Homo sapiens: one gene and its partners. The protein of the gene in region 4 purifies or fractionates together with the protein of the main gene of each other region. This does not show direct contact. Each region holds a gene or a part of one and is shown on either strand. Other genes may lie near its edges.

Evidence for each region.
Region 1: the proteins of HSD17B3 (region 4) and POTEI purify together in Homo sapiens (affinity purification with mass spectrometry; 2 studies listed by BioGRID and IntAct, with this or other methods). This does not show direct contact.
Region 2: the proteins of HSD17B3 (region 4) and SLC12A4 purify together in Homo sapiens (affinity purification with mass spectrometry; one large-scale study listed by BioGRID and IntAct). This does not show direct contact.
Region 3: the proteins of HSD17B3 (region 4) and MTCH2 purify together in Homo sapiens (affinity purification with mass spectrometry; one large-scale study listed by BioGRID and IntAct). This does not show direct contact.
Region 5: the proteins of HSD17B3 (region 4) and RMND1 purify together in Homo sapiens (affinity purification with mass spectrometry; one large-scale study listed by BioGRID and IntAct). This does not show direct contact.

What each region holds. Positions count from the first base shown.
Region 1 is NC_000002.12:130,459,982-130,465,492, reverse strand, and holds part of POTEI (POTE ankyrin domain family member I), read left to right. Parts: intron 1-1,348; coding exon 1,349-2,677; 3' UTR 2,678-5,511.
Region 2 is NC_000016.10:67,961,175-67,967,498, forward strand, and holds part of SLC12A4 (solute carrier family 12 member 4), read right to left. Parts: intron 5,621-6,324; exon of another isoform or gene 5,601-5,620; coding exon of another isoform or gene 5,579-5,600; intron 2,879-5,578; exon of another isoform or gene 2,854-2,878; coding exon of another isoform or gene 2,757-2,853; intron 2,386-2,756; coding exon 2,291-2,385; intron 533-2,290; coding exon 401-532; intron 1-400. UniProt on the Homo sapiens protein: Mediates electroneutral potassium-chloride cotransport when activated by cell swelling. May contribute to cell volume homeostasis in single cells. May be involved in the regulation of basolateral Cl(-) exit in NaCl absorbing epithelia.
Region 3 is NC_000011.10:47,620,750-47,627,073, forward strand, and holds part of MTCH2 (mitochondrial carrier homolog 2), read right to left. Parts: intron 4,993-6,324; coding exon 4,925-4,992; intron 2,028-4,924; coding exon 1,952-2,027; intron 1-1,951. UniProt on the Homo sapiens protein: Protein insertase that mediates insertion of transmembrane proteins into the mitochondrial outer membrane. Catalyzes insertion of proteins with alpha-helical transmembrane regions, such as signal-anchored, tail-anchored and multi-pass membrane proteins.
Region 4 is NC_000009.12:96,238,554-96,244,877, forward strand, and holds part of HSD17B3 (17-beta-hydroxysteroid dehydrogenase type 3), read right to left. Parts: intron 5,842-6,324; coding exon 5,776-5,841; intron 2,355-5,775; coding exon 2,205-2,354; intron 1-2,204. UniProt on the Homo sapiens protein: Catalyzes the conversion of 17-oxosteroids to 17beta-hydroxysteroids. Favors the reduction of androstenedione to testosterone. Testosterone is the key androgen driving male development and function. Uses NADPH while the two other EDH17B enzymes use NADH.
Region 5 is NC_000006.12:151,443,744-151,450,067, forward strand, and holds part of RMND1 (required for meiotic nuclear division protein 1 homolog), read right to left. Parts: intron 2,083-6,324; 5' UTR 2,069-2,082; coding exon 1,565-2,068; intron 1-1,564. UniProt on the Homo sapiens protein: Required for mitochondrial translation, possibly by coordinating the assembly or maintenance of the mitochondrial ribosome.

The DNA of each region.
Region 1 (5,511 bases), on a different chromosome or scaffold from region 4:
GTTCTTAATTCACCTTCATTTGCCTGCAACAGTTGAGTAGTGACTTGCACAATGGCCTCAATCCAAAGGAGAAGTATTTGATGTTTTTCATAAGAATTGACGATCTTTCCACATCAGAAATAAGTTTTGCTACTGAAAACAGATTTTCTCATTTTTGGACATTAGTTTTTTAAAAAATGTTAATAGAGAAGTCAATTGATTATTTTTACTGATAAGAAAGTAGGAAATGTATAGCTGGGTCAGAGGCCACATTGTGGATACCATTATCCTTACTTTTGCAGAGAGGAACAGTTTGCTCCAAGTAGTTTCTCATTTCAGTGTAAAGAGGTTTGAAAACAATGACATGCCATGATACACATTTAGTAATAATTTATTGATAAGTATTTTGTTTCTGGAGAAATAGTTCAGTATATTTCCCCTATTTCACCATTACTACTGTTTCAAACATTATAAAGAGGAAATAAAAGTTACCGCAATGGCAAATAATCTCATGATTTCTAAGAAAATCTCTATAAGTTGTATCTTATTTACCATTCATATTTTGAAACAAAAGGTTTCTTTTGTATTTATATATTTACACCACAGAAGTAAGTGTGGTTTTGTGGAGGATCACTAGAAGTAGCATCAGCAGACCTGGGGAAAATCCTGCATCTGTGTATATTTTTTGACCTCTCCTTTTAAGAATCGCGATCTTAAATGAGTTCAGTGTTATATGTAGAAGTGGAATGCCTAGATACAGATGTGTACAGTGTAGAAGGGTACAGTGCTTAGATTTGACAGTTATAAATAAATGTAATTCTTATAACTGAGTATAGAAATATTAGAAATGTAGAATATCGGTAAAATGTTCTTCAGTAAAAGAACTTTAAGAACTTTGAGAAATTGCTTCTGTCCAAATATATGCATAGCTAAGGCTCTTAGGATGGTGTGGTTGATAGGTTAGATATCAGAGTGTAAACCTAATCTTAAAAATGTAGTCAAATTGTTAATCTTATATTTTATGCCTCTGGGTTTTTTGTAACTCAGAAAAAGGCTTTTTTAATTCTGGGATTCTTAAAAATCCTCTAGTGATTTATTTTTCATCGTCTTTAAATAAATATTTAAACTTTTAGGAATTTAGGAGCAGATTCCTAAAAGTTTAAATATTTATTTAAAGGCGATGAAAAATAAATCACTGGAGGAATTTACACTCTTATTAGGTTTGAAGTTTTGTCCAATTTTTTTCCAGTTAAATATCCACTATGGGGATTCTTTCATTATACAAATACATGTTATTTTTGAATTTCAGAAGAAATAATGATATGTCAATCTATTGAGTGCTAACTAAAAGTTCTCTTTGTTTACTTAGCTTTCTCTTAGTTGTAAGAAAGAAAAAGACTTCTTGCATGAAAATAGTACGTTGCGGGAAGAAATTGCCATGCTAAGACTGGAGCTAGACACAATGAAACATCAGAGCCAGCTAAGAAAAAAGAAATATTTGGAGGATATTGAAAGTGTGAAAAAAAAGAATGATAATCTTTTAAAGGCTCTACAATTGAATGAGCTCACCATGGATGATGATACCGCCGTGCTCGTCATTGACAACGGCTCTGGCATGTGCAAGGCCGGCTTTGCGGGCGACGATGCCCCCCGGGCTGTCTTCCCTTCCATCGTGGGGCGCCCCAGGCAGCAGGGCATGATGGGGGGCATGCATCAGAAAGAGTCCTATGTGGGCAAGGAGGCCCAGAGCAAGAGAGGCATCCTGACCCTGAAGTACCCCATGGAACACGGCATCATCACCAACTGGGATGACATGGAGAAGATCTGGCACCACACCTTCTACAACGAGCTGCGTGTGGCCCCTGAGGAGCACCCCATCCTGCTGACCGAGGCCCCCCTGAACCCCAAGGCCAACCGCGAGAAGATGACCCAGATCATGTTTGAGACCTTCAACACCCCAGCCATGTACGTGGCCATCCAGGCCATGCTGTCCCTGTACACCTCTGGCCGTACTACTGGCATCGTGATGGACTCTGGTGACGGGGTCACCCACACTGTGCCCATCTATGATGGGAATGCCCTCCCCCATGCCACCCTGCGCCTAGACCTGGCTGGGCGGGAACTGACTGACTACCTCATGAAGATCCTCACCGAGCGTGGCTATAGGTTCACCACCATGGCCGAGCGGGAAATCGTGCGTGACATCAAAGAGAAGCTGTGCTATGTTGCCCTGGACTTCGAGCAGGAGATGGCCATGGCGGCCTCCAGCTCCTCCCTAGAGAAGAGCTACGAGCTGCCCGATGGCCAGGTCATCACCATCGGCAACGAGTGGTTCCGCTGCCCCGAGGCGCTCTTCCAGCCTTGCTTCCTGGGCATGGAATCCTGTGGCATCCATGAAACTACCTTCAACTCCATCATGAAGTCTGATGTGGACATCCGCAAAGACCTGTACACCAACACAGTGCTGTCTGGCGGCACCACCATGTACCCTGGCATGGCCCACAGAATGCAGAAGGAGATCGCTGCCCTGGCGCCTAGCATGTTGAAGATCAGGATCATTGCTCCTCCCAAGCGCAAGTACTCCGTGTGGGTCGGTGGCTCCATCCTGGCCTCGCTGTCCACCTTCCAGCAGATGTGGATCAGCAAGCAGGAGTATGATGAGTCAGGCCCCTCCATTGTCCACCGCAAATGCTTCTAGGTGGACTCTGACTTAGTTGCGTTACACCCTTTCTTGACAAAACCAAACTTCTCAGAAAACAACATGAGATTGGCATGGCTTTATTTGTTTTCTTGTTTCATTTTTTGTTTTGTTTTTTATTGGCTTGACTCAGGATTTAAAAACCGGAATGGTGAAGGTGACAGCAGTCGGTTGGAGGAAGCTTCCTCCAAAGTTCTACAATGTGGCCAAGGACTTTGATTGTACATTGTTCTTCTTTTCAATAGTCATTCCAAATATTGTGAGACGCATTGTTTCAGGAAGCCCCTTGCCCTGCTAAAAGCCACCCCACTTCTCTCTAAGGAGAATGGCCCAGTCCTCTCCCTAGTTCACACAGGGGAGGTGATAGCATTGCTTTTGTGCAGATTACATAATGCAAAATTTTTTGAATCTTCGCCTTAATACTTTTTAATTTTGTTTTATTTTGAATGATCAGCCTTCGTGGCCCCCCTCTTTTGTACCCCAACTTGGGGTGTATGAAGGCTTTTGGTCTCCCTGAGAGTGGCTGGAGGCAGCCAGGGCTTACCTGTACTCTGACTTGAGGAGAGTTGGATAAAAGTGCACACCTTAAAAAAAATTGAGGAAGCACAGTATTTCAGTACAGTGGACAGCTTAGCATGTTGACAACTGAGAATAAAATGCTCAGTTCTGAACTGGACAATGTAAGACACAACGAGGAAACACCGGAAATGGAAATTCAATTACGTCATTGTAGACTGGCTGCTGCTCTACATGATTGTGACCAAAGTCAGATAGCTGAAAGAGACTTCTTTCCAGAGAACAAGACATGAACAGGTTTATTTACAGAAGACAATGAATTCTCATTTATCTCACCTAAAAGAGAACAGATTCTTTCTCAACAAGTCTAACGTAGACAGTAAAATCAACAGGCTAAAAATTAAGCTCCATGAAACAAGATAAAACTCTGAGAGAAAAGACGGGGCAGGCCGCCATCTTTCCCGTTCAGGCAACTTAGTCATTCCAGCCTGCGGGCTTTGGAGAGTACAAACCGACGAGGGACAGAAGAGATCCCACAGCACAGCATAGCTGCTTTACCAAATCATGGCCAGACTGCTTCTGTAAGCAGGCCCCTGATCCTGTTCCATCTCACTGGACAGGACCTCCCAACTGGGGCCTCCAGCTACCCCCACCAGCATTCCTTGGCCAATGGAAATGTGAAATGTTCCTGGGACAGAGCTCCCGGAGAGGGGCAGGCCCCCACCTTTGCTCTTTCGGTGACTAGCCATTCTGGCCTGCGGGCTTTGGAGAGCCCAAGCTGACAAGGGGTGGAAGAGGTACCTCAGCACAGCACAGCCACGCTACCAAAACGTGGCCAGACTCTTGTTTACGTCAGTCCCTGACCACATTTCTAGTCAGTGGGTGAAGTCTTTCAACCAGGGTCTCTGGCTACCTTGACTGCTGTTCTCTGGCCGACAGAGGTCTCAGGCCTCCCTGAGTCAGAGCTCCCAGGGGGAGGACCAGATTGTCATCTTTGCTGTTGGGGCGACCCAGGCATTTCAGCCTTAGGGCTTCAGAGTGTCTGAGGCGGACCAGGGGCTGAAGTGAACCCCCAGCACAGCACAGCTGCTCTATAAAAACGTGGCCAGACTTTTCTTTTTGAAGCAAGTCCCTGTTCTTGTTCGTCCTGACTAGGTAAGACTTCTCAACTTGCCTCCAGCCACATCTTATAGGTGTGTTCAGATTGGCAACAGGTTCGTACCTCAGTGGTACAGAGCTTCCAGAGGAAGGGGCAGACTATCATCTTCCCTGGAAAATACAAGGCAATTAGGGACTGGAGGGGACCCCCAGCATACCACAGCAGCCCTACAGAAAAGTGGCCAGGCTCTCTACTTGATGGGCAGATCCTCCTGGCCTGGGTCTCTAGCCAGCCCACCACTGGAGCTATCAAGCCAGTAGCAACTCTGCAGTTCCTGGGACAGAGCTTCCAGGAGCAAATGAAATCCTTTCTGCCACTGCCTCTGCAGTGGAACTGCCCTTGCTGCCCTCAGAAGATGCAAGGGAGCAAAGACCCTAAGTGCCCTATCAACACCTCCAATAAGCTGCAGTTGACCCAAAGAACAAGCCAGTCCATCTCCCACGGGTACCACACACCCTCCACTACTCATCACCAGACAGGGAACCCTGGCTTGGGCCCACAGCACAGACCCTCCATCCTGGGCTGATTACACTAAGTGATTGCTAACTCACATGTCTCTGGGATGGAGCACCCAGGAAACAAGCAAAGTGGTGGAGCAGCAAGTCAGGTGATGTGGAGCCCAGAGGTCAGGGATGGCTGTCTCTCTAGGGTCCACTTGCCCTTGTGAGACACTTTATCCCAGCACTTTAGGAATACTGAGGTCATACCAGCCACATCTTATATGCAAGATTGCCCAGCAGAGATCAGGTCCGAGAGTTCCCTTTTTAAAAAAAGGAGACTTGCTTAATAAAAGAAGTCTAGCCACGTTTGTGTAGAGCGGCTGTGCTGTGCTGGGGGTTCACTTTTGAGAGAGTTCTCCTCTGAGACCTGATCTCTGGAGGCTGGGCAATCTTGCACTTGAGATGGGGCTGGTCTGATCTCAGCACTCCTTAGTCTGCTCGCCTCTCCCATGGCCCCAGCCTGGCCACACCTGCTTACGGGGCACTCTTAGATGCCCACACCATAGCTTCCGTGCTAGTGGACTGTACCATATCAGTGGAGAGCTGCAGCAAGGTGGCCCCTAGAGCCACGCACCAGCCTGCACATTGCCTCTCCATACGGCAGCCCTTTATTTGGAAACTTCCTAAATCACTTTGCTGTGTGTGTTTACACGGGTGGG
Region 2 (6,324 bases), on a different chromosome or scaffold from region 4:
GTCACCTTAGACAAGTTCCTTAATGTCCCTGACACTATTTCCTTGTCTGAAAAATGGGGATGATAGTAAGCACCTGCCTCTTGGTTTTGTTGTACAGATGACATATGAGAACCCAGGCCTGGTGTGGTACCTCGCACACAGTAAAGGCTGAGTACAGGCAGCTGTGTCTCCTGCTGTCATTCCTGAGGGGCTCCCTGGCCCTCTGCCCCCCGGGGGGATTCTCATTAGGTCACTTCTTAAAGCCTCCTGAGACAAGGCATTCAGTGCCCATCCTCCCTGCTCACTATGCTTGGCACCCACTTCCCCCAGTGTGCTCACCACCATGTGGGGAAACAGTCAATTCCATGGTGCTGTGTCTGTCTTCCCAGGTGTGGCCCCTCTGCCGCCCCAACCAGCTCACCTCGGCTGCCCTCCGGCGGGTGCCCTCCCCACTCTCGGCCTCCTCATGCTCTTTGGCGCCCTGGGTGAGGTTGGTGTAGCTGACGAGCTTTCCCAGAAGAGACGATACCTTTGGGCGGATGTCCAGCTCTTCCTGCAAACAGAGCCACAGGGCAAGATGGCATTGGGCCAGGTGGGTGCCAGCTGTGTGGAGCCAGCTGCCTGGTCCCTGGCCCTGTTCCAAGCCCTGAGACAGGCCTGGGCCTGATCCCAGTTCCTACCTGGGGAAGTCCAAGCCATCCAACTGGACAGGTGTGCACACCACACCCCAGCACGTGGCACTCAAAGGCCCAGCCCCGCGGCTGCTTCTCTCTACCCCGCCTTGGCTACAATCACTGCCAGCCCATTTGTGAAAACCACCTGCCTCAGGGGAGAGAGGGCAGGGAAGAACACGGCTGGCAGGGGGGCAATGGCATACTTCATCCTGCCTGCTCTGCCCAGCCACCTCCTGGCTATGGCTGCACCTCTAGGACTCACGCCTACCCTCCCCACAAAAAAGCCACTCTAGTCACCTCAGGGAACCAAAGAGGGCAAAAGAGTGATGTCTGGGACAAGTGAAGTCTCCCTTGTCTGCCCAAACCCTGATCTCCCTGGATGGTCTTCCCCTGACCCCAGTCCTGCAAGTACCCACATCAATCGCGGAGATGGGATCCTGATCCTCCAGCCCATCCTCAGGCGGGGCTGGGCCAAGGCCTTCACCGCAGAACCTTGCTGCTTTCCCAGGTCAGGAGGCCTCCCAGAGCTCAGGTCCCCCAGCCCCACCGGGGTCTAGGCGATGATCCCTGCTCCTGCAGCCTTCTCGAGGCTGTGCTTCTACCTGCCTCCTGCCCACATTTAGCTTTTCCCTCTCTGTCAGCTCCTTTCTGACCTACACACAGGGAGAAGTTGCTTTGGTGTGAGAAAGGAAGACGAGGGCCCTTGGGGGCATGTGGAGATTAAGGAGCCTCGGCCAGATGTGGTGGCTCACAGCAGTAATTCCAGCACTTTGAGAGGCTGAGCAGGAGGATCACTAGAAGTCAGGAGTTCAAGACCAGCCTGGCCAACACGGTGAAACCCCGTCTCTAAAAACACAAAAATTAGCCAGGCATGTGGTGGGCACCTGTAATCCCAGCTACTCGGGAGGCTGAGGCAGGAGAATCGCTGAGCTTGGAAGGCAGAGGTTGCAATGAGCTGAGATCGCGTCACTGCACTCCAGCCTGGGGCGACAGAGTGAGACTCCATCTCAAAATGAAGAAAGAGAAAAAAAAGGCAGATTAAGGAGTCTCCATTACTCAGCCATGCAGTGGCTGAATGCATGGGTCAGAGTTTAGGAGCTTAAACTACGTCTTAAATCCAGATCTCACTGCTCAGCTTGAGTCTGAAGAAGATAAAACTCAAGTACAGAGGCAGATATTTGGGAATCTTTCCAGAGACGTATCCCCTAAAGCTGCAAATGGACCAGGACTCAGGGAACTAGAGAGGGACAGAGCTGGAAGGGTCAACCAAGAAAGACAAGGAAGAATCCATGGGAGAGCGAAGAACCATGGACTTGGAGAAGAACCAGGAGTGGAAGGAAGAGGAGAAATCCTGAGTTGGGAAATCCTAAGCGGGCGTTTCCTTGCTGAGGGGTTGTAAGGAAGTCAGAGGTGAACCACCCTGGAGGTAGCAATGGGGGTGGGATTGTGAGTGGCCTCTGGAAAGGCAGTTTCAGTTGAAAGGGCCAAGGGAACTGCAGCCCGGCTGCCATGAGAACCAGGAACACAAGAGGAGATGAGAGGAAGAGCAAGACAGAGGAGGCCCACGTGTCCAGCCTGCCTGCTTAGCTAAAGCCTCTGTGTGCCAAACCTGTGGCCCAAAATGGCTCCTCAGCTACCTCAAACAGTGCCAGGTTCCTGTCATAGTAGTCAATTCCTCTGGAAGCCTCCAAGGGGGAAAGAAAAGGGCTGCTCTCTCTGTGGTTGCCATGTCCTGTGAAGAGAGAGGGACAATCAGGGCCTGCTTCCTGAGCCCCCCAGCCTGGGCCCCTTCCCAGAAAGCCAGTCCCCAAATCATTTCTGTGGAGCACTTTGGAGCTGCAGTGTCACCAGGTTGCAACTCAGTTTTCACATGGCACCGTGCCAATGCTCTTGAAGGCCCAGGGATAGCCAGAGAGAGGCCAGTGACCAAAACCTGGGACATCATTCCCTCCAGTGAAGGGAATCCAGGTGAGGGCGCAGGCGCCCTAGCACAAGCACGTATGGACACTGAGGGACGGGGCCTGCAGAGGGGCGGGGCCAGCGTTTGACCCGCCCCCAGATCGCCTCCACGCCCCAGTCCCTTTCCCGGTCTTTCCGGAGTACCCAATGTGCAGGATGCCAAGGGTTCGGTGTCCTCAGGGACCGCCCAGGCAGTGCCCTCCAGATAGACGAAGCCGCACACAGCACCTTCGGCTGCCATGGCCCAAAGGTGGCCGGCTGGCTACCCCACCATGCACTGCGCGGGGGGCGTCCTGCAGGGCAGCCCGGGGCATGCCGGGAGGTGGGGCAAGCCCCAGGCCGTGGAGAGCGGAAGTGGATTCCAGGAGCCTTCTAGGGTTGCCTAAGAAAGTCGGACGGGTGGGTGTCGGACTGAGCAGGGAGAAAAATGGGAGCTGGGACTGCTGGCAGGAGCAACACAATGGCCCCCTTGCCCGCAGATCCCGCCGCTTGCCCCAGGCAAACCTCCGCCTACAGCCCTAGGCTGATGAGCCAGTGCCCCAGCTCTGAGAAATCTCGCCAAAAGGAGTGAAATGCTCCTTTTCAATAAGCCTGCCTCAACTCCCAAAGCTCGACTGTTTTTTCTGGCCTCCTATCATTCATTCTTCCCTGTTTTCCAACTCTTGTCCCTTATGAGTCTCGGTGGGTGCCATTCCCAGCTTCCCACCAAGCAGAACGCCAAGCACTCGTTTTCTAGGTGCTGAGTGTTCCCTCCACCCCAGCTACCCTCGCAGCCCCGGCCCTGGCTCAAGGCCTCACAGCAAATGGAAAGCACACATCTTGGTGTTGGATGGCAGCAGTATGTAGTTCTGACATGAGAAGGACTGGCATGGTGTCCAGTGATGGAGATGGCAACAGAACTGTCACCACCAGCCCAGGCTAGTGGTGTGATTGGGCCATGCACTGGCCATGCCCGCCAACCTTTTCTGTTTACATAGGCCACAATTCATTTTTCTTGACTGCAGCTGAGAATGCTGATTGAGGCATCCTCCTGTATCTGATACATCTCTTGCTATCAGCATGAGGCTTCAATTGCTTTCTCTGAGCCAACAACCACTCAGCAGGTGCTGTGCTGTGGATTCTTTATCCCCCAAGGAAACTAACAAATCAAGTGTGCCCATGACAGTTTCTGGGGCAAAGTCAGTTCTTCCTTCCCACAGCATGTGAAAGTGGCACACCTGCTACACCCAGCAACCTGGACTAGCTAAGTGAGCCAAGCAGCTCAGCCCCACATTCACATAGGTCAATGCCAATGGCACAGTGGACAAAGGCAGCCAGAGGTCAAGACAGTCCACCGTGTCATGTTAAAGCCAGGCGGGGTCATGTCGGACACTCTATGATATCTGCTGTACCCTCCATGCTTGTTCAGGATCAGAAGGAGTCCCAAGAAAAATCTGAAAACCCAGTAACACTCTGCCTCTTACATTAATGACATTAATGGCTCTTCAGTGAAAAGCCTTTGAAAATTACTTTTGGATTTTTGTGACAAAAAAAGTGTCTCCCTTTGATAAATCAGGTGCTTCATTTTGTCAGAAAATGCCAGTTATACAGCTCGTCTTACTTCTCTTTCTGCTTTGGCTGCCAGGAATCTCCAAGCTAAATTTACTCTTTAGATAAAGTCACCATCTGTCTCACCTGAGTGCTTGCCCCCTTCCTCTGCATGGTTTTCAATCTTCCTGAGAGTAACAATCACTTGGGGAGACACTTTTGTTGGCTATTTCTTCTGATTCTTTTGTGGAAGTAGGCTGGAAATCAATTATAATTTATTCTAAACTCATGTACTACAGCCTGCCCCATCACTGTTGCCTGGTCTTTCTGGGTAGACTGTATTGCTATCCAGAAAATATACAGCTGAGCACACAGCAGCTCCCCACAAATGCCTGTAAATGGTCCTCTAAGACCTAGCCTATCCCTTGTCCCTTCAGCTATCACTCTAGGATGGCTCGGGGCCCTTCCAAAAGTTGTCTCTAGTTCTCACAGCAACATTCCAGTAGAGAGCATTTACTACCTTTTAGGGACAAGGAGAGTGAAGCTCAAAGATGTTCAGAGGCAAGGTCACCCAGGGAGAAGGCCACATCTGGGTCCCAGGGTCCATCAGAGCCCTGTAGGGGCGGAGCTGCAGGTTCCGTTCCTACTACAGACTCCAGTCCATCTATGCAGCACAATCTTTAAAAATAGAGAAGAGTGCTGCAATTTGGCCAGGGTACGCATACCTAGGCCTCTGGGCATTCAGACTGCGGCAGACTGGCTTGGATTCCCAGACCTTCCCCCGTGTGACCCAGGGAGACATGCTTACTCCCTGTGCGGCCTTGGTTTCCTCTTCTATGAAGTGGAGATTGTAACACTTGTTTTTCCAACTGCCCAGATGCACTAGAAAAGGGACAGTTAGTGCCAGACGCCCAGTGGGCACTCCTCGGAGTTCCCCCAAAGCTCCCAAGGGCTTGTGGGAATGTAAGGGTCTAAGTAGTGCCTGGATGTCTGTACTGCCCTCGGCTTCAGACCTCCTGTTCTGGCCTCAGCCATTCCAAAAATTCCAGGGCAGGTCTGGACATGCCTGCCAGGCTGAAGCTGCTCAGACACCACCTGAGATCCCCAGTAAATCTGAATATGGCCTAGGCCTAGGGACTGCCTGTGAGCTACACAACTGTGTTCCCACCAGCAACTGTGACTGCACCAGTGGCAGGTGGGGATCCAGGTGACCCTCCTGATCCCTGTGTACACGGACATCTGCCTGAGGTGCCCCCTCCAGCACCTCCCTACCCCCTGCCCACAGGCCAAGGTGGGCTGGATGAGCAAGCCCATCTAGGCCTCCCAGAGCAGAGGTGTGGGCACTGAACTGGGGAAGGGGCAGGAGATAGATCTGAGGCTCACTGTGCTTTGTGCCCTCTGACCCTTTGCAGTCCCCACCAAGGATCAAAATCACTCACCGGGGCTCAGGGTGTCCCCCATCCTGTAGACAGCCAAGGTCTGGCTGGAAAGGAGTAAGAGGAGGAGAAAGAGGAAGGGAGGCAGTGGGAGGAGCTGGCCTAGCTTGCGGGGATCTAGCAGGACTCAGCCAATGTAGCTCCAGGTCCCTCCAGTCACCCTGTAGGGGCCAAGGCGTGGCCAAGGTGGGGCCAGCAGCTAGGCTCAGCTCTGCCTGCCCACTGGTCCAGGCTGATCCTGGGGATGCAGCCCAGTCTACCCTCTGGGGAGAGAGGTCCTCCCAGGGTTAGGGAAGCAGGAATGCTGGCTTTTGCTTTGACCACTTGAATCAAGCTAGGGGCAGACAAGGGCATGGAGGCTGGGGCACTCACACAGCTGTCAAGCCTGTAAAACCTCTGCAATGTCCAGCAGCCCATGCCACTGTCCTGTGCTACCTCTGCACATGGCAGTCAAGTGATACACACACATAGCCATCATTCACATTGGGCATGGATCATCTCAGTCGTGTCACCATCACAGATGGATCAGAGGTCCAGACAACGTCACCTGACACGTGTCAACCACACACTTCCTACATATCTCCATCATGATCGGTCACAGATATCACAGGCATTTATCATCAGTCAAATCACCATCCTCATCACTGTCAACCCTGCAGGAAACAGGGGCTGTGAGAATGCCCTGACCTGAACCAGCCTTCACCCTGTGATACCCACAGCTACACACTTGTACAAGCACAATTACACAT
Region 3 (6,324 bases), on a different chromosome or scaffold from region 4:
GCCATGTGACCTTGCATTATGTAATTGGCACTAAACTGCTCTAAGCCCCAGTTTCTTCATATGTGAAATGGGTGATTAAGAATGACACCTATTCTCACACAGCTGTTTTGAGGATTACATGAGCTGATGTAAGAAAAGCTCTTAGCATGATATCTGGTATACAGTAAATGCCCAATCAAGATTTGCTGTTGTTGTAAGCACCTACAGGAACAACTGTTCCTACTTTAAGTGTGTTTGACACCGTAATCCATTCTCTGTCTGCTTTCTTCCTATAACAGAGTGTTAGTCAGAAAAGGAAGGAAGGAAAGGCCATTTTTTCCATTTAAACAGGGACCACACTGTACAATAGAGAGTAAAACTCAGAATGAAATGCACAATGTTCATAGTAGGTCTGTACTGAAATCATTCAAGTATTCAAGCTTGGATTCACAGAGGGGCTTTGTGGGCACACTAAGCAAGAGCAACTACAAACAACACTTAGGCCTTTTCATTCAGATTTCAAAGGCCTTTCTCTTATATATCACTAGTGCTATAAAATAATGCAACAAAGAGCTTCTTTATACGCTTTCTTCTACAATCTTTTAAGAAGTGGACCCCCCTTCAAAAACAGCTTTAAACTGATAATCATTTTAAGTGATCCTGTGCTAAATTTAGCCCACAGCCAATCCATTTGTTGTTGTTATTGTCTTTTTTTTTTTTTTGAGATGGAGTCTTGCTCTGTCACCCAGGCTGGAGTGCAGTGGCACAATCTTGGCTCACTGCAACCTCCACCTCCTGGGTTAAAGCAATTCTCTTCCCTCAGCCTCCCCAGTAGCTGGGACTACAGGCACACGCTGCTACGCCCAGCTAATTTCTTTTGTATTTTAGTAGAGATGGGGTTTCACTGCGTTGCCCAGGCTGGTCTCAAACTCCTGACCTCAAGTGATCTGCCCGCCTTGGCCTCCCAAAGTGCTGGGATTACACCTGTGAGCCACTGCACCTGGCCTGTAGTTTTTTGTTAAGAGACACGTCTGGCTGTGTTGCCCAGGCTGGCCTCAAACTCCTGGACTCATGTGATCCTCCTGGCTCAGCCTCCTGAGTAACTGGAACTATAGGCATGAGCCACCATACCTAGCCGTTATTTTATTTTCCTTTTTTGGATACAGGGTCTCACTCTGTCACCCAGGCTGAAGTGCGGTGATGCAATCTTGGCTCACTGCAGCCTTGACCTCCTGGGCTCAGGTGATCCTCCCACCTTAGCCTCCTGGGTAGCTGGGACTATAGGTGCTATGCCTGGCTAAGTTTTTGTATTTTCTGTAGCAATGAGGTCTCATCATGTTGCCTCAACTGGTCTCAAACTCCTAGGCTCAAGCAATTTGCCCACCTAGACCTCTCGAAGTGCTAGAATTATAAGCGTGAGCCACTGCACCCAGCCCATTATTTTATTTTCCAATAAAGCTTTGCCTAGATAATAAATAATTTTTTGTTGCAGATTATACACCTCATAGTAATAACAAACCCTAAATTGGTATCTAGGCAAAATCATCCACTAACAAGACTCTAGAAGTATAAGACCAGCTCTGTCAATACCACTGTGACAAATAAGTGGTTATGAAAGGTGAGTTTGGGGGAAAAAAAGAGTCTAAAATCAAGGCCATCATTTTACCAGGATAATAATCTACCTGGATCGTATTTGTAAGTTGAATGTGGGCACTCAAATGGCTTCTAGGTCTCATCTAGGGATTCTTTCTTCTTCATTACTCCTGCTCATGATTTCTAAACATCACATTTTACTATTATGCCAAAGTGAAAACACAGAACACTGTAAAGTGTACATTAACTGGCAGACTAGACTAACTCTAGCTAAAGTGAGCTACAAGAGTTAACTTGGGATTCCAGAGACAATATTTAAGAAAACAAATAAATAAAAATAAAACAAAATAAAATGAGAGAGACAGAGAAAAAGAAATACCTCTTTTTGTAGCATGCACCAACAGTCTATCCAAGACGTATATATTGGGGAGTAAGGAGGGCATCCACCAGCAAGACTAAAATAGAAAAAAACATGGAGCTATTCATGTTAATATTAACCATTCTCTTGAGACGTTGATAAACCTTGTCAAAATATTCTGCTGCACAGAAGATTCCCTGAGAGATCATTTTAGTTCAATGAAACAAATCATATTGAAGCAGGGGAACGATCAAGCATCCAAAAGAGAATTCCTCCCCTATATTTAGGTTTCAAATAAATAAATAAACATAAACTTCAACCTTAATTTCTAAAACATTTAGACTTTTCCTTTGTGGACAAATGAAACTCCAGAACACAGCATTTACATGATTAAAGAGCAGGGAAAGGTGGCCGGGCACGGTGGCTCACACCTGTAATTCCAGCACTTTGGGAGGCCAAGGCAGGTGGATCATTTGAGGTCAGGAGTTCAAGACCAGCCTGGCCAACATGGTGAAACCCCATCTCTACTGAAAATACAAAAACATGAGCTGGCATGGTGGCGCATGCCTGTAATCCCGGCTACTTGGGAGGCTAAGGCATGTGAATTGCTTCAACCCAGGAGGCGGAAGTTGCAGTGAGCCAAGATTGCACTACTGCACTCCAGCCTGGGTGACAGAGTAAGAACCAGTCTTTTTTTAAAAAAAAAAAAAAAAAAAAAGAGCAGGGAAAGGAGATTTAAAAACTAACTGGTGTTCACAAAGATACTAAACATGAAAACGGATATAAACAGTAGATATATATGTTCCTACTTAGGTATAATCACTTCATCTTGAAAAAACTGTAAATAATAATAATACATTTAATTCATCCTTCAAGTTTACACTGTGCTAAAAAATGGCAGTTGCTCTACGTATCAGAAAACATCACAGCTTGCCAGGAGTAACATGAAACAAACAAAACCAGAAAACAAACAATGTAAAATGTTCAAAACTCCACATAGCTATCTGATCTTATTTGAAAACAGTAACATGTTTAATGATATGTCAGGTACCATATGGGAAAAGAATTTTGAATTAAACAAAAAAGGCAAGGCTGGGTGCAGTGGCTCACGCCTGTAATCCCAGCACTTTAGGAGGTCGAGGAGGGTGGACCACTTGAGGTCAGGAGTTCGAGACCAGCCTGGCCAACATGGTGAAACACTGTCTCTACTAGAAATACAGAAATTAGCCGGGGGTGGTGGCAAGTGCCTATAATCCCAGCTACTCTGGAGGCTGAGGCAGGAGAAGTACTTGAACCCAGGAGGTGGAGGATGCAGTGAACCAAGATCGCGCCACCACAATCCAGCCTGAGCAACAGAGCAAGACTCTGTCTCAACAATAACAACAACAAAAAAATACAAAAAATTAGCCAGGCATGCTGGTGGGCACCTGTAATCCCAGCTACTCAGGAGGCTGAGGCAGGAGAATTGCTTGAACCTGGGAGGTGGAGGTTGCAGTGAGTCGAGATTGCACCACTGCACTATAGCCTGGGCAACAGAGTGAGACTCCATCTCAAAAAAAAAAAAAAAAAGGCAAAATTTTGCCCAACTCAGTAGAGTCACTTGGCATCTAGAATTTGGAAATCAATGGAGTCTACCACTATACCAAAACCTGCCCTTCTAACCAATACAGAGAAAAGGTCATCAAACTTTCCATAGACTAAATATCCTAATTCTGGTTCTTTAAAACTCACTTTCTCCATAAAGCCCCTAGGAAAAACAGGTATGGATTGTCATTTAATCCCTGATATACCTTTTGTCACTTTCATAGAAAAGATAAAGATTTAAAATAACAATATGTTGGCTGGGCATGGTGGCTCACCCCTGTAATCCCAGCACTTTAAGAGGCTGAGGAAGGAGAATCACTTGAGCCTAGAAATTTAAGAACAGCCTGGGCAACAAAGTGAGACCCTGTGTCTTCACAAAAAATAATTAGCCAGGCATGGTGGCATGCACATGTACTCCCAACTACTTGGGAAGCTGAGATGGGAGGATCCCTTGAGCTCAGGAGTTCAAGGCTGCAGTGAGCTAGGACTTCACCACCACATTGCAGCCCTATCTCTAAAAAAATTAAAAATAAATAAAAATAGGCCAGGTGCAGTGGCTCACGCCTTTAATTCCAGCGCTTTGGAAGTCCGAGGTAGGCAGATCACCGGAGGTCAGGAGTTCAGGACCAGTCTGGCCAACATAGCAAGACCCCATCTCTACTAAAAATGCAAAAATTAGCCCAGCATGGTGGCACATGCCTGTAATCACAACTTCTTGGGAAGCTGAGGCATGAGAACTGCTTGAATCCAGGAGGTGTCTGTTGCAATGGAGCGAGACTGCACCACTGCACTCCAGCCTGGGTGACAGAGTGAGATTCTGTCTCAAAAAACAAAAACAAAAACAAAAACAAAAACTATAAATAATAATAGTAATTGGCCTGGCATGGTGGTTCATGCCTGTAATCCCAGCACTTTGGGAGACTGAGGCGGGTGGATCACTTGAGGTCAGGAGTTCGAGACCAGCCTGGCCAACATGGTGAAACCCTGTCTCTACCAAAAATACAAAAATATTAGCTGGGCATGGTGGCGAATGCCTGTAATCCCAGCTACTCAGGAGGCTGAGGCGGGACAATCACTTGAATCCAGGAGGTGGAGGTCGCAGTGAGCCGAGATCATGCTACTGCACTCCAGCCTGGGCAACATAGCAAGACTCCATCTCAAAAAAAAAAAAAATAATAATAATAATTAATAAATAAATACAAATTGAGGCTGCTGCTGCATAGGGCATACAAAGAAAAAAATTAGGAATCTTCTAATGGTATCAATTATACTTTTCCTCCCCCCCTTTTTAAAAAAATACCAATCAGAGATTGATACTGATCATTCATCTTTCCTAAATTTCTACAAGGCTGCTCCGCCTGTCAGCATACAGTCAACCACCTACTAGAATAAGAAATACAAAGTGCTTACCCACAGTTGTTGACAGCCATAAGATTGGAGACAAGCACAAAGGGATAGGTCAACATACTCGCAAAAAACTGTAAAATGGAAACAAGGCAGCTGTTATTAGATCATTCCTAGTCTTTATTCTCCTTTCCTTTACCTTAAAGGCCTAGTGCCACTGCGGTGAGACACTCTAACACTTGTCTCGCTTCATCGGTACCCTGGAAAGACAACAGTTACAGTTTTGAGCCTGGAGATGCTTCTTCCTCTTAGCACACCACTGCATCCAACATTTTAACAAAAGGCCAGAAGAATTCTCTGATCCTGAGTAGCTGGGACTATAGGCGCACGCCACCATACCCAACTACTTTTTTTTTTTTTGAGATGGAGTTTCCCTCTTGTTGCCCACGCTGGAGTGTAATGGTGTGATATTGGCTCACTGCAACCTCCGCCTCCTGGGTTCAAGCGATTCTCCTGCAACCTCCGCCTCCTGGGGTTCAAGCGATTCTCCTGCCTCAGCCTCCCAAGTAGCTGGGATTACGGGCATGCACCACCATGCCCAGCTAATTTTGTAGTTTTAGTAGAGATGAGATTTCTCCAAATTGGCCAAGGTGGTGTCGAACTCCCGACCTCAGCCTCCCAAAGTGCTGGGATTACAGGAGTGAGCCACCGCGCCTGCCCCAGCTTTTTTTTTTTTTTTTCACTTTTGTAGAAATGGGGTCTTGCTCAGTTGCCCAGGCTGGTCTTGAACTCTTGGCCTCAAGTGATCCTCCTTCCTTGGCCTCCCGAAGTGCTGGGTTTACAGGTGTGAGCCACCATGTCTGGCCTGAACAATATTATTTCGGAGGAAAGGCACGCCCCTTATGAAAGCTAAGCAGTACCAAACCATGCAGGATGTGAGGCAGGGGTTCTGCCTTACTCTCTTTATTTTCACATGTGAGTCTGTGGTTCCTTCGAAAACTGAGTTATTCTCTCTTTTTTTTTGAGATGGAGTCTCACTCTGTCGCCCAGGCCGAAGTGCAGTGGCGTGATCTCAGCTCACTGCAGCCTCCATCTCCCAGGTTCCAGTGATTCTCCTGCCTCAGCCTCCCGAGTAGCTGGGATTACAGGCATGCACCACCACGCTCGGCTAATGTTAGTATTTTTAGTAGAGACGGGGATTCATCATGTTGGCCAGGCTGGTCTCGAACTCCTGACCTCAGGTGATCCGCCCACCTCACCTTCCCAAAGTGCTAGGATTACAGGCATGAGCCATGGCGCCTGGCCGAAAACTGAGTTATTCTTACCTTTGACAAATATAACAAATTTCAGGGAGATGTCCCAGTGAGACATCTGGTTATCTTAAAGCAGTGATGACACAAGCCAGATTTAAAAGGAAAACAAAACAAAACACAACTATTCCTAGAAGGTTAAAAGGATTTTAAAAA
Region 4 (6,324 bases):
CAGAAGGCTGAGGCAGGAGAATCGCTGGAACCTGGGAGGTGGAGGCGGCAGTGAGCCAAGATCGCACCACTGCACTCCAGCCCGGGCAACAGCGAGACTCCATCTCAAAAAAAAAAGATCTGTAATTTTTCTTTCCTGGAGATAGTGGGAAGTGGGAGGAGAGAAAGAGAAAGGCGTGGTCAGAAGTGTGTCCTCTGTCGGGTGTGAGCTCTGGCCTAGGCTGGGGGCTGAAGGATAAGGCCTGGCGCATGAAGGATGGAGAAGTGTGATTCATGAGTAAGGGTGGCACTGAGGGCAAAGAAGGGGCCATGGCCCCCACTCCTCTGCAGTCCAACCACAGGAAATTATCTCAGCATGGTGAGACAGGTGCTGAGATTTGGTTTTTCCAGCTTCCTTCAGGTCCACGTTGGTGCTGATGTAGAGATAGCAGCCAGAGGTCTATGTGGATCAAAGCTGCAGATGGACCTTGGGCCTGTAGCTGGAGGGGGATGTGGCAGAGTACAGCAGTCTGCTGCCCTCAGTAGCTGGGGAGACCTTATCAGGGTATCCACTGGCCAAGTCAAAAGGACAGAAAGGTTCATCTCCCTCATCCTTGACAGACATAAACTTCAGCAAGGTGAACAGCCACCCAGGACACCAGCCCACACACATGGAAGGACCGTCATGGACCACAGGGCATCCTCTCCCAGCGCCACCTAGTGAGAGGGGCAGGAAGAAGGGAGCCTCCAGGGAAGGATGAACATTTCTCCCTAAATAACAGACTAAGAGTACATTTCCTAAATGGCCAGTTGAGATGACTAGATCAAACTCAGTTTAGACTCATTGGACATTCGATGAATTTTCCTGCAGCAAGTGGTGATCTGGAAAAAGACCAGATCAGCAACAGAAAAAATAAAGACTTTATATCCTCTCTGCATGTCTGCTTTGTAGTGTGAGTTACATTGGTGATTATGCACATTGTTGAGGTTCTACATAAAAATAGCAAGTAATTGAGAAAGTTCAATATCTCTTGCCAGAGTCTTTAAGTCCCAGCAGATAAAGGAATGCTTTGGTAGACTTTAGCGCATGGAGCCATGAATCCTTCTACCATCCATGAAAGACAGAGAGAGATCCAATTCCTGCAGTAGAAAAGCCAATGAGACAGAGGAGGAAATTGGCAGATGATGGGTAAGTGAGGAAACCCCATCTAACTTTCTTTGGTGGGACTGGAGTCAGAGCTATGCCAATGTTATGTTTGCTTCAGTATTAGTGAGCAATACTCAAGTCTACCTTTGTTTCATGTTTGTGTTTGTTTTTAAAAGCAGTCCAGGAGTGGTAAGAGCCTCTTCTGCCATATGCTGGATCTGTGGCATGCTGGAGCTGGCTTGCACTCACTCATAAGAGCCCACTGCGATCATTCTCAGCAAACTAACACAGACACAGAAAACCAAACACCACATGTTCTCACTCATAAGTGGGAGTTGAACAATGAGAACACATGGACACAGGGAGGGGAACATCACACACCGGGGCCTGTCGGGGGGTGGGGGGCAAGGGGAGAGAGAGCATTAGGACAAATACCTAGTGCAAGCAGGGCTTAAAACCTAGATGACGGGTTGATAGGTGCAGCAAACCACCATGGCACATGTATACCTATGTAACAAACCTGCACGTTTTGCACATGCATCCTGGAACTTAAAGTAAAATAAAAATGAAAACTAAAAAAAGAGCCCTCTGTGCACCATGCACTCCTCAATTCATGCACACAGCGTCATGTCCGTGGCTTAAACTCAGCCATGCTGGAAGTATTTATACCGTGGAAGTCAAATGCTACACATCAAAGTGGTTTGTGCTTGTTTTGTTTTTTTGCCTGGAGGGCTGATAGCTAAACATTGACTGGAATAGAGGGTCAAGAGAAGACAGCAGCCCCCACGTGGAAGCGCCATATATCTTGGTCTTCCCTGCCCAACAGCTCCTGGGAGCCACCTTACTTTCTGAGGGGAGGAGGGAGGCAGCCAAGAATGAGACTTGCCAACTTCGGGGTTATCTAGTGGCTGAGCTCCCAGGCTCCGGCTTCTCTCCACCTCGCCACATAGTCCTTGTACCTGGCTATATTAACGCATCAATGAGTGCTCCAGCAGCAAGGAAGAGCTAGCCCAGCCCTGCCAGGGCCACCTGCGTGTCCTCCCTCCCTGGCTTCAAGAAAAGGAGAAGTTATCAATTACCAAGATTTCATGGGCAAGGCAGCCACAGGTTTCACCTCCAATTGTGACATAATTCAATGACTCTTTGACAAACTCATCAGCAGTCTTGGTTATCACATTTGTATTTAGATACTTTGTCATTGCAGTCGAGACAGCATATGGGGTCAGCACCTACAACGGGAAACAAAGACCATGGCACAGAAGCAATCCACCCCAGGAAGAAGACTCAGAAATTAACACTCAAGCCCCCATCCCACCATTTCCCGACCCTTCTCTTCCTAGGCAAAGTTTTAAGATCTTGAGTGGAAAAAGGCACAGTACCGGCACAGAGCTGGGAATCAGAAATTTGGTTTCTCAAGATGAGAACCTACCTAGCCAACATCAAGTGGCCCAAATGCCCTGCCCAACACACAGTGTGAATGGGAAGAACTCGGGTCTCTCTCTCAGAACCAAGTTGCAAGACAGCAAATAAAAATACAGGATGTCCAGTTAAATTTGAAGTTCAGACAAACAATGAAAACCACTTCAGCACAATCGTATCCCAAGTATTGCATGGGACATACTTATACTGAAAACTATTCATAGGCATCTGAAATTCAAATTTAACTGGAGGTCCTGTATTTAATCTGGCAACTCTATCTCAGAAGTTTGTTTCTAATACATATAACCAAAGTTGGAGCAACTGAAAGCACTCTGGATTCCCACTTTCACACTTCAGTTAGGAACCAAGAGTAGCACATACCTCATAACCTCTTCCTGTTGTGGTAAGAAAAACAATCACACATTGTGCCCTAAAAACCCAACACCATGTTTCCACCTGTGGGCTAACCACATTGTGGCCTGGCATGGGGATTCATAATGGGGTTTTATTACCTTATTCCCAGAACAAAGGGTTTGGCATCTTTAGAAAGAAAAAAGGCTGGCATGGTGACTCATGCCTGTAATCCCAGCATGTTGGGAGGCCAAGGCAGGACGATTGCTTGAGCCCAGGAGTGCGAGACCAGCCTGAGCAACATGGCAAAACCTCATCTCCATTAAAAATAGAAAAATTAGTCAGGCACGGTGGCACATGCCTGTAGTCCTAGCTACTTAGGAGGCTGAGGCAGGAGGATCCACTGAACCTGGAAGGCAGAGGTTACAGTGAGCCAAGATCGTGCCACTACACTCCAGCCTAGGCTACATCAGAGTGAAACCCTGTCAAAAAAAAAAAAAGAAAAGAACAGAAAAAGAAAGAAAGAAAGAAAGAAAGAAAGAAAGAAAGAAAGAAAGAGAAAGAAAAGAAAGAAAAGAAAAAGTAAAAAAAAAAATCCACAAAAGTTTTCTAGGTTTTATTTTTCTTCACATCACATTTGGAATTACATTATTTCATAATTGAACCCAATTATGAATCAATTAATCCAAATGAGCAGGTTCCTATGGAAATTAAAGCATGATTAATTTGTATAACACTTTTCTTCCAAGGATCTCAAAGTGTTACTCTTTGAGAAATATAAGGAGTGTGCTTTCTCCACCACAGTTTCCAGATAGGGAAGTAATGATAAGTATTTTCATTCTTAAGTGATTTTGGGTTGACAAAACACCTGTATGTACAAAATAGGGGCTCAATAAATATTGTTTAAACATATGTACTTATTTCTTCGTTAGATCTTTACTATAACCCAGAGATATAAGCAGGCATTATAAGCCCCTTTTTATGGATGGGAAAACTGAGGCTCACAGAGTTTAAACAAGCTGACCAGGATCACTCAGATGATAAGTGGTAGAGCTGTGATGAAATTCAAACCCAACTCCACAGTACATACTTCTTCATGCATTCAGCGAGTATTTATTCATTCAGCGAGTATTTATTGAGTGTGTGTTCGGAGAGGCCAATTGGTTTTTGAAAGATCACAGTCTTTTCACTTTCTCCTCCTTGCTAGAAGAGCACCTCCAAGTTCTCTGCATCAGGGAAGGGACAAGGGACTCCATTTCCCCACCCACATCTCCTCCTGACCCTCCTGCTCCATAGTACCCACTACCTCGGCAGCTGTGCCCCAAGGATCAAGACAAGATGCTGCTGAGGGTCACATGGCTAGGAAGCAGGTGGCTGCGATGATCATTCATGTTTAGAAATCACCAAGGATTCTTGGTTCCTTCTTCTTCCAGACACATGCATAATAGAATTGCACTTCCTGGCCCCCTGTGGCTGTGTAGGACCATGCAAGCAGAGTTGGCCAGTGATTTATGAACAGAGGTGACATGTGTCATCTCTGGGCCAGAGCATTTCATTGTCAAAGCAGGACCCACTAGAACTTCCCACTCCTTTTCCTCTGGCATGTCGGCTGCTCCGTCAGCCTGGGGCCCTGTGTCAGCACAGTGAGCCAATGTCTTCTGTGAACCCACAGTGGATGTGTCACGTGAATGCAAAATAGGACTTTGTTGTTTTAAGCCACTGAGATTTTAGGGGTTATTTTTTTACTGCAGCAAACTTAGCCCAGACAGAGTTGCAGCATTACAAAAGCGAAACTCCAGCTTCAGCTGGGAGTGGGAGCACGGAGACCCCAGCATGGAAGCAGGACCCTCTGATGGGTCAGACGGCTTCTGCATGGCAGAGAAAGGGACTGTGACCCGGTGGCAAGGCTGTTACAACCACTCACTATGGCTCAGAGATGATATTATTGGCCAAATTCCTACCATTAACTCATATCTGCCTACTTAATAAGCTTTACCCTGTAGCTGGTTAGTTTATAGGAACAGCTGCCTAAAATACTCTCACTGGATATTTTAATTGAAAATCAGTGTGCGCAGCAATAATTTCCAAGATATAATTTTGAGTGTGCCTTTCTCCATTTCTAATAGTATATCGTAAAACTTCTTCCCACACAACAATAACAAAACAAAACAAAAACTCTGTTTATTCTACGTTCCAGAAACTATCTAACTCTAACTCTGTTGCTGAACCAAGCACAAATAAATCACTGACACTTTAGGAATCACATTGCTCAGCCTGCAGCAGGCAGTGACAGCCCAGCTCTGCCTAGGTGAGGACAGGTCATCTCCACGATGACCTGTGGAAGGGAAGCAGAGTGCCTCCTCCTCACCTGCTCGAGAACCAGAGTGTGGGGACCTCTGTGGCCCATCACAGAAGGTCCCCTCCCCTGGTGACTAGCCCCTCCCCTCATTCAAACTCGGATCAAGTGCCCAGTTTTGTTTTGTTTGCTTCTTCTCCAGAATTCCTCCCACATAAGCCTGTGTTCTGTACCAGGGTCAGAGAGGAAAAGCCACAACCAACCCGAATGTCTGCTCTGATGAAGCATCAGGTAGCAAGAAGGTCCACAGCATTTCTGAGCAGCCACTCCCCTCTCCTATTTCCTCCTCCAGCACCCAGGGCACGGGGGAGGGCAACAGAAGCCACAGCAGCAGGTGGGACTGAGGCGCCCCAAAAGCCCACGTGGCATCCCCAGCTCATCTTCCTGTTGACCACACATGAGCAGCCAGACCCACAGGAGGCAGTGGCCCCAGCCACGGGAGGTCCAGAGTAACCCTTCTCAAGGACTCACAGCCGCCCACCTCACCTGGATGATGACAAGGACTCCACAGCTGCCCACCTCACCTGGATGATGACTTCTTTTGCTTTATATTCCTCTTGCAGGGCCTTGGAAAATGCGCACACAAACGCCTGGAGCAAGAAGGAGAGACACCTGAGGCCCCAGAGTGAGCTCCCTCGTCAGAGCCAACTTCCTCTGACTTCAAGGGGCACTGCAGACACACTACCTGCTAGACCTTAAAATAGAGTGGGGAGCTCTGGGTACGGAGGGTACGGAGTTTCAGCTGCACAGGGTGAATATGTTCTAGAGATCTACTATACAGCATGGTGACAAAAGCTAACAATCATAGACAACATACCTGAAAATTACTAAGCAAGTAGATCTCAGGGGTCCTCACCACAAAAAAAAAACCGGTAAGTATGTGAGGTCATGGATATGTTAATTCGCTTGACTTGATCGTTTCACAACATATACATATATTAAAATATCACCTTGCATACTATAAATAGACACAATTTTTATTTGTCAAGTACGCCTTAATAAAGCTGGAGAGTGGGGCAGAAAGAGGGTAAGGGAAAAAATGAACCAGCTTGCCTTGATGGGAGTTAGCACTT
Region 5 (6,324 bases), on a different chromosome or scaffold from region 4:
ACTCCTTAATTTCAGTGCTGGAAAAAGTTATTTCTCTGAAGATATTTTTATGTTTTTACTCTGCCCTCTCCCACAACAATAAACAACAAACACTAAATCCCAGGAGGAGTTCCTCTTTTAATTACTGCGCTTCTCAAAACAAAATGTTCAACTAGATTATTCATTTCAGGTACTTCATAACATTTCTCTGTTCATGTCAACTATTTGCTCTAATATGTGAAAGTATTTATTATCTCATTTGAAACTATGTTGAATGTTGAAAATCTACTTCAAATTCTTTCCTGGAAGGAAGTAGAAAAAAAAATCTAAAGAAAAATAGATACGGTATTTAGGAAAATTGCTTCCAAGTCTAAGGATGGCCCAAAGAAATAGCCTAGGGACATCTCTGACCTATCAGCTTCTTCCTAAGAAACCTGATGCACTGTGCTGCTAGACGTTACAAATGAACAAAGTGAGTTGAGCTTTCTCTTTTTTGGAGCTGCCATGAATTCAGGTTTTTACACTTAATGCCATCTCGGACACTTAAATACTGAATTTCCCAGGTTACCCCAAAGCTCCAGCAAAAGGAAAGGGGAAACAGTAGCTGCACAACACTTCATCCTTCACGTCCTGAGTTCAGAGTAACCACACAAGAATTGAAAGCATTCCAGAATCCAACACAAAAACCATTCATTCATTGCTAGATTCAGAATCAGAGGATGAGTAAAGGTATGTATGTATACCTTTCCAAGGGGTGTCAGCTGCACAGTAATAAAAACACAGCCAAAATGAAACAGGCTCAGGGGCTACTTTTCAGAATCAAGACTTGAAGACAGACATTCTAACCTGTTTTCTGATAGATTCAGAAGTCTTCATCAAGTTTAAAATATCTTTAAAGTTGATGACTATCGGCATTAAAGATCCTCTTATAAACATTTAAGTACAAGGTACAGTTCTAGGTATTATGCAAGATACAAAGGTTATCAAGGGCTTGATCTTGACCCTTAAGTTGTTACTGAAGGAGAAATGCAAATTGTAGCAGAAAAATTCCCAGAAACCCCTTAAGGATGAATAAAAAATACCCCCTTAAACCTTAAGAGGATAAAAAAGCTGGGCCCTCCTCTCCTGCTGCTTTTGGAGTCCACCCTACCGTGTCATTTCACCGCCCCATGCAACTGCCACAGCCTAATAAAGGCTTATCTGTCTGCAGAGTTACAATTTTTTTTAACTTGATGAAGAATTTCTAGTTTGTTTTTTTTTATTTTATTTTTTTTTACAGTCCCATTCTTAGACTGGACTTAATATTGGTCCTCTTTTTCAGTTTCCTTAGACCAATAACCAAATCTTTTATAAACTCTATTTTCATGTGTTATCACCTGTATTTTGTTTTTATATGTATCATTAATTGTTAAAAATTAAGATTCTGAATCCCTTTGGATATTTATTAGGCTTCAAAGACCTTGATGAAGAAGTCTGAGTGACTGCTAGTTCTCTTACGTTGGCGGTAAGGCTGGGGTGCAACGCACACTGGTTTAGCATGAGCAATGATCACTAAGCACGAGAGCCACGGCCACCCCTACTTTACCTCGTTCACAGACAGAACTGGAAGGTTGGTCCTGGATGGCTGTCTGGTCCTGGATGCTTTTAGTGGTCTCTTCACCTGTGGGAAGTCTTGTTTTGGAACAAATGTTTCCGTTGATACAGATGAGAAATGCCTCTTTAATATTTTTATAAACCATTTAGAACCCAACAGATTTGGTTTGTGGGTCACTCTCCTGTGAGTACCAAAGGATTTCATGGTTGGAAGGTGTGCCTTTTCATCTTGGCAACGAGCAGCATTTAATGGAGACAGCATGCTGGTATCTGACTTTTTTTGGTTCATTTCCAGGATCTGAGACTTATTCAAACCACTAGCTGTTTTATCAGGAAGGAACAAATCCAAGCTTTGACGTATTGTCAGTGTGCTGCATGTTGTATTTTCAAATTCCTTAAGTGGTTTTAACATTAGATGACCGATTCTTCGGCACTGATGTGCTTTTGATAATATATGATGAGATCTGGCCACGGCTCTGAGGAGTGTGGCTGGCATTACCACATCCCAAGCTAAAAGAAAAGGAATTCAAAGTTCAAGTTTTTAAATTAATGTTTAAAACATATATAATATTTCCCTAGGTAGCAGGCATATTTCTGTTAGAAAAATTTGTAAAACAGATACATTCTAAGTTAATTCTAGTAAAAGAACAAGGTTAAAAATATAAGTACAGTGTTTCTGCCACTTTGCCTTTAGCAACATTTGGCCTTCTTCCTGGAAGATTACAAGATTATAAAGCTACTGACATAACAAGAACCTTAAAAAAAATAGTGATGGGACCACTTCATTTACTTCATTAGCATATCAAGTATATAAAAATCTGTGCTGGCCAGGCACTGTAGCTCACACTTGTAATCCCAGCACACTGGGAGGCTGAGGCAGGTGGATCGCTTGAGTCCAAGAGTTCCAGACCAGCTGAGGCAACATGGTGAAACCTCATCTCTACAAAAATGACAAAAATTTAAAAATTAGCTGGGTGTGATGGCAGCTCATGCCTGTAGTCCCAGCTACTCACAGGCTGAGGTGGGAGGATCACTTGAGCCCAGAAGACTGAGGCTGCAGTGAGTCATGATTGTACCACTGCATTCCAGCCCTTTTTCTGTCTCAGGAAAAAAAAAAAAAAAATCAGGAAAGGTTCCCAGAAAGATCTAAGCTGATTCTAGAAGGCGAAGGTGCTTTTCAGCTTGGGGCTGGGCATGGGAGTGCGAGGCATGTCAGATACACACATGAACATTCCAGACAAGGTAAACAGAATTTCCCCCTTATTTACAGTATGAAATGTGTTATTTTAAAGTTAGCCTATAGTAGGCCACACATGGTGGCTCACGCCTGTAATCCCAGCACTCTGGGAGGCTAAAGGCTGGGGGGATCACTTGAGGCCAGGAGTTCAAAACCAGCCTGGCCAACATGGCAAAACCCCATCTCTACTAAAAATACAAAAAAAAATTAGCCAAGCATAGTGGCTTTAATCCCAGCTACTCAGGTGGCTGAGATATAGAATCGTTCAAACCAGGGAGGGAGAGGTTGCAGTGAGCCAGGATTGCCCCACTGCACTCCAGCCTGGGCGACAGAATGAGACTCTGTCTCAAAAAAAAAAAAAAGTTAGACCGTAGTAATCAATAATTCTTTTTTTAAAAATAATATGTTAGGTGCTAGAGATAGATGAATCAATGATCTCAGAATTCAAAGTCTAGCAGAGGAAAATGAACGAGATGCACAAATTGCTCTAGTCCAGAGAAAGGAGCATGTGAAGAGTGTGGCATTGTCACAGAGGTGACATTTGAACTGAGTCTTGAAAGGGCAGAAGGATCAGCAAGTTAAACACCCCAGGCATGGAGTCCTATTCATCTCCCCATCTCGGGGAGGTAGGAGTGAGCTGCAGGAGGTAAGGACCAAAAGAGCCGATGGCCAGATCACCAAAGGATATATAAAGTCATCCTAAAAAGTTTCTACAGGTGGGGAGAAAGCTGAGCTTTTAACTCAGAGTCACACGGTCAAATGCATGTTCATGAAACAAATTTTTGGTGATGATATGTAGGAGGAAACAAGACAGACTCTGACATCACTCTGAGCGCTTTCTACATGCTAAGTGCTCGGCTTCACCTCATAATGATCCCATTTCACTGATTAGGAAACTGAGGTTTAAAGAGGCTAAGTGCTCACCGTTAAGAAGCTGCAGAGATGTAACTAAAATAAAACCCAGGCTTTCCCAATTCCAAAGTCAACACTCTTACCCACTACCTTGTATTTACTACCTCTCTTCAGGATAAGGACAAAGATGATTCACAGTGATATTTAGGAGGTAGAACCTGCTGCTTCCAAAATCCCTTCAAAAGCTCGCATTCTGTGCTTCATTCTAGTCCAATTGGCTACTGTAGTTCACCTTTAATTAGTACTATGCCATGCCAGTTGAACCACTTAATTTTGAAGAAACTATAAAATATTTTAGAAGTTTGTCTACAGTCCTGGATTCTTTTTATTCTCTTTGAGTAAATTCTTTTTTTTTTTTTTTTTTTTGAGATGGGAGTCTCGCTCTGTCACTCAGGCTGGAGTGCAGTGGTGCCACCTCAGCTCACTGCAACCTCCGCCTCCCCGGTTCAAGCGATTCTCCTGCCTCAGCCTCCCGAGTAGCTGGGATTACAGGTGTCTGCCACCATGCCTAGTTAATTTTTTTGTATTTTTAGTAGAGACGGGGTTTCATTATGTTGGCCAGGCTGGTCTTGAAATCCTGACCTCAGGTGATCCACCTGCCTTGGCCTCCTAAAGTGTTGGGATTACAGGCGTGAGCCACCGGACCCAGCCCATTTTTATCACTGCACCTTCTAGAAAGCCTAAGATTACATTTGTGCCTTACACTGTTTTTCTATCAGACAGGGCCCTATTGTCATTATCAATACATCGGACCTCCTCATCTCAGTTTCATCCATTTTACTCTCTAAGCACCACCTCCTATCTTTGCATCTCACTCCTTCTATTACCCAATTCCAATAATTCTTCAACCCCAACAGGACCCACAAGTCAATGATCCAACCACCTTTTCACTGTCTCTCACTCCCCATGACTTCACTTCCTCCATATCCAGTTTACACTCCATGGTCTACCATTCTAACCTCTCCCTTATACCCCTAGAATCCCTTGCATCCCTTTCTTCCCAGTCTTTCCCATTCATGAGCAGTAATAAGTATCTTTATAACTGCTAAGCCAAAAACGTGGGGTCCAGCTTGACTCTTTATTCTCCATATCCAACTTCTCAGTAAATCCCAAGGGCCTTCTAGGGACCACTGCTCATCATCAGTAATAATACTACCTGATCCAAACTGCTATCCTTCCCATGGATTATTATAATAGCTTCTTAACCAGTTTTCCTGATTCTGTTTTGGGCCCCCTACAGTTTCTTCTCAACACAGCAACCAAAGTGATCCTTTGAAGTTGAATCTCAACGCGAAATCTAGCTGTGGCTTCACGGTTCACTTAATAAAAGCCAAAGCCCTCCAACCAGGCATGGCGGCTCACGCCTGTAATCTCAGCACTTTGGGAGGGATCACTTGGGGTCAGGAGTTCCAGACCAGCCTGGCCAACACGGCGAAACCCCGTGTCTACTAAAAATACAAAAATCAGCCGGGCATGGTGGCATGGGCCTATAATCCCAGTTACTTGGGAGGCTGAGGCACGAGAATGGCTTGAATCTGGGAGGCGGAGATTGCGCCACTGCACTCCAGAATGAGCAACAAAGCGAGACTCTGTCTCAAAAAAAAAAAAAAAAAAAAAAAAAAAGCCTGGCGCGGTGGCTCACGCCTGTAACCCCAGCATTTTGGGAGGCCGAGGCGGGTGATTCACAAGGTCAGATGTTCGAGGCCAGCCTGGCCAACATGGTGAAACCTCGTCTCTACTAAAAATACAAAAAAATTAGCTGAGCGTGGCGGCGGGTGCCTGTAATCCCAGTTACTCGGGAGGCCAAGGCAGGAGAATCGCCTGAACCCGGGAGGTGGAGGTTGCAGTGAGCCGAGATCGCGCCACTGCACTAAAGTCTGGGCGACAGAGTGAGATTCTGTAACGAAAAAAAAAAAAAAAAGCTAAACCCCTCAGAATGGCCTGCATGGCACTACATTATCTGTCCTTTATCACCACTTTGACAGCACTCTCCTTTGCTTATTTTGCTCCTCATTCTGGTCTCTGGATCTGTGCACTTGCTGTTCCTTACGCTCTTCTCCCAGGGATCTGAAAGGCTCACACCCTCACCTCCTTCAGATGTTTGCTAAAATGTCTTCTACCCAGTGAAGCCTTCCCCAACCACTACATTAAAAACACACAACCAGCCCTCTCCCTCTCCCTCCTCTCCCTCTCCCCACGGTCCCCCTCTCCCCACGGTCTCCCTCTGATGCCGAGCCGAAGCTGGACTGTACTGCTGCCATCTCGGCTCACTGCAACCTCCCTGCCTGATTCTCCTGCCTCAGCCTGCCGAGTGCCTGCGATTACAGGCGCATGCCGCCACGCCTGACTGGTTTTCGTACTTTTTTGGTGGAGACGGGGTTTCGCTGTGTTGGCCGGGCTGGTCTGCAGCTCCTAACCGCGAGTGATCTGCCAGCCTCGGCCTCCCGAGGTGCCGGGTTTGCAGACGGAGTCTGGTTCACTCAGTGCTCAATGGTGCACAGGCTGGAGTGCAGTGGCGTGATCGAGGCTCGCTACAACCTCCACCTCCCAGCCGCCTGCCTTGGCCTCCCAAAGTGCCGAGATTGCAGCCTCTGCCTGGCCCC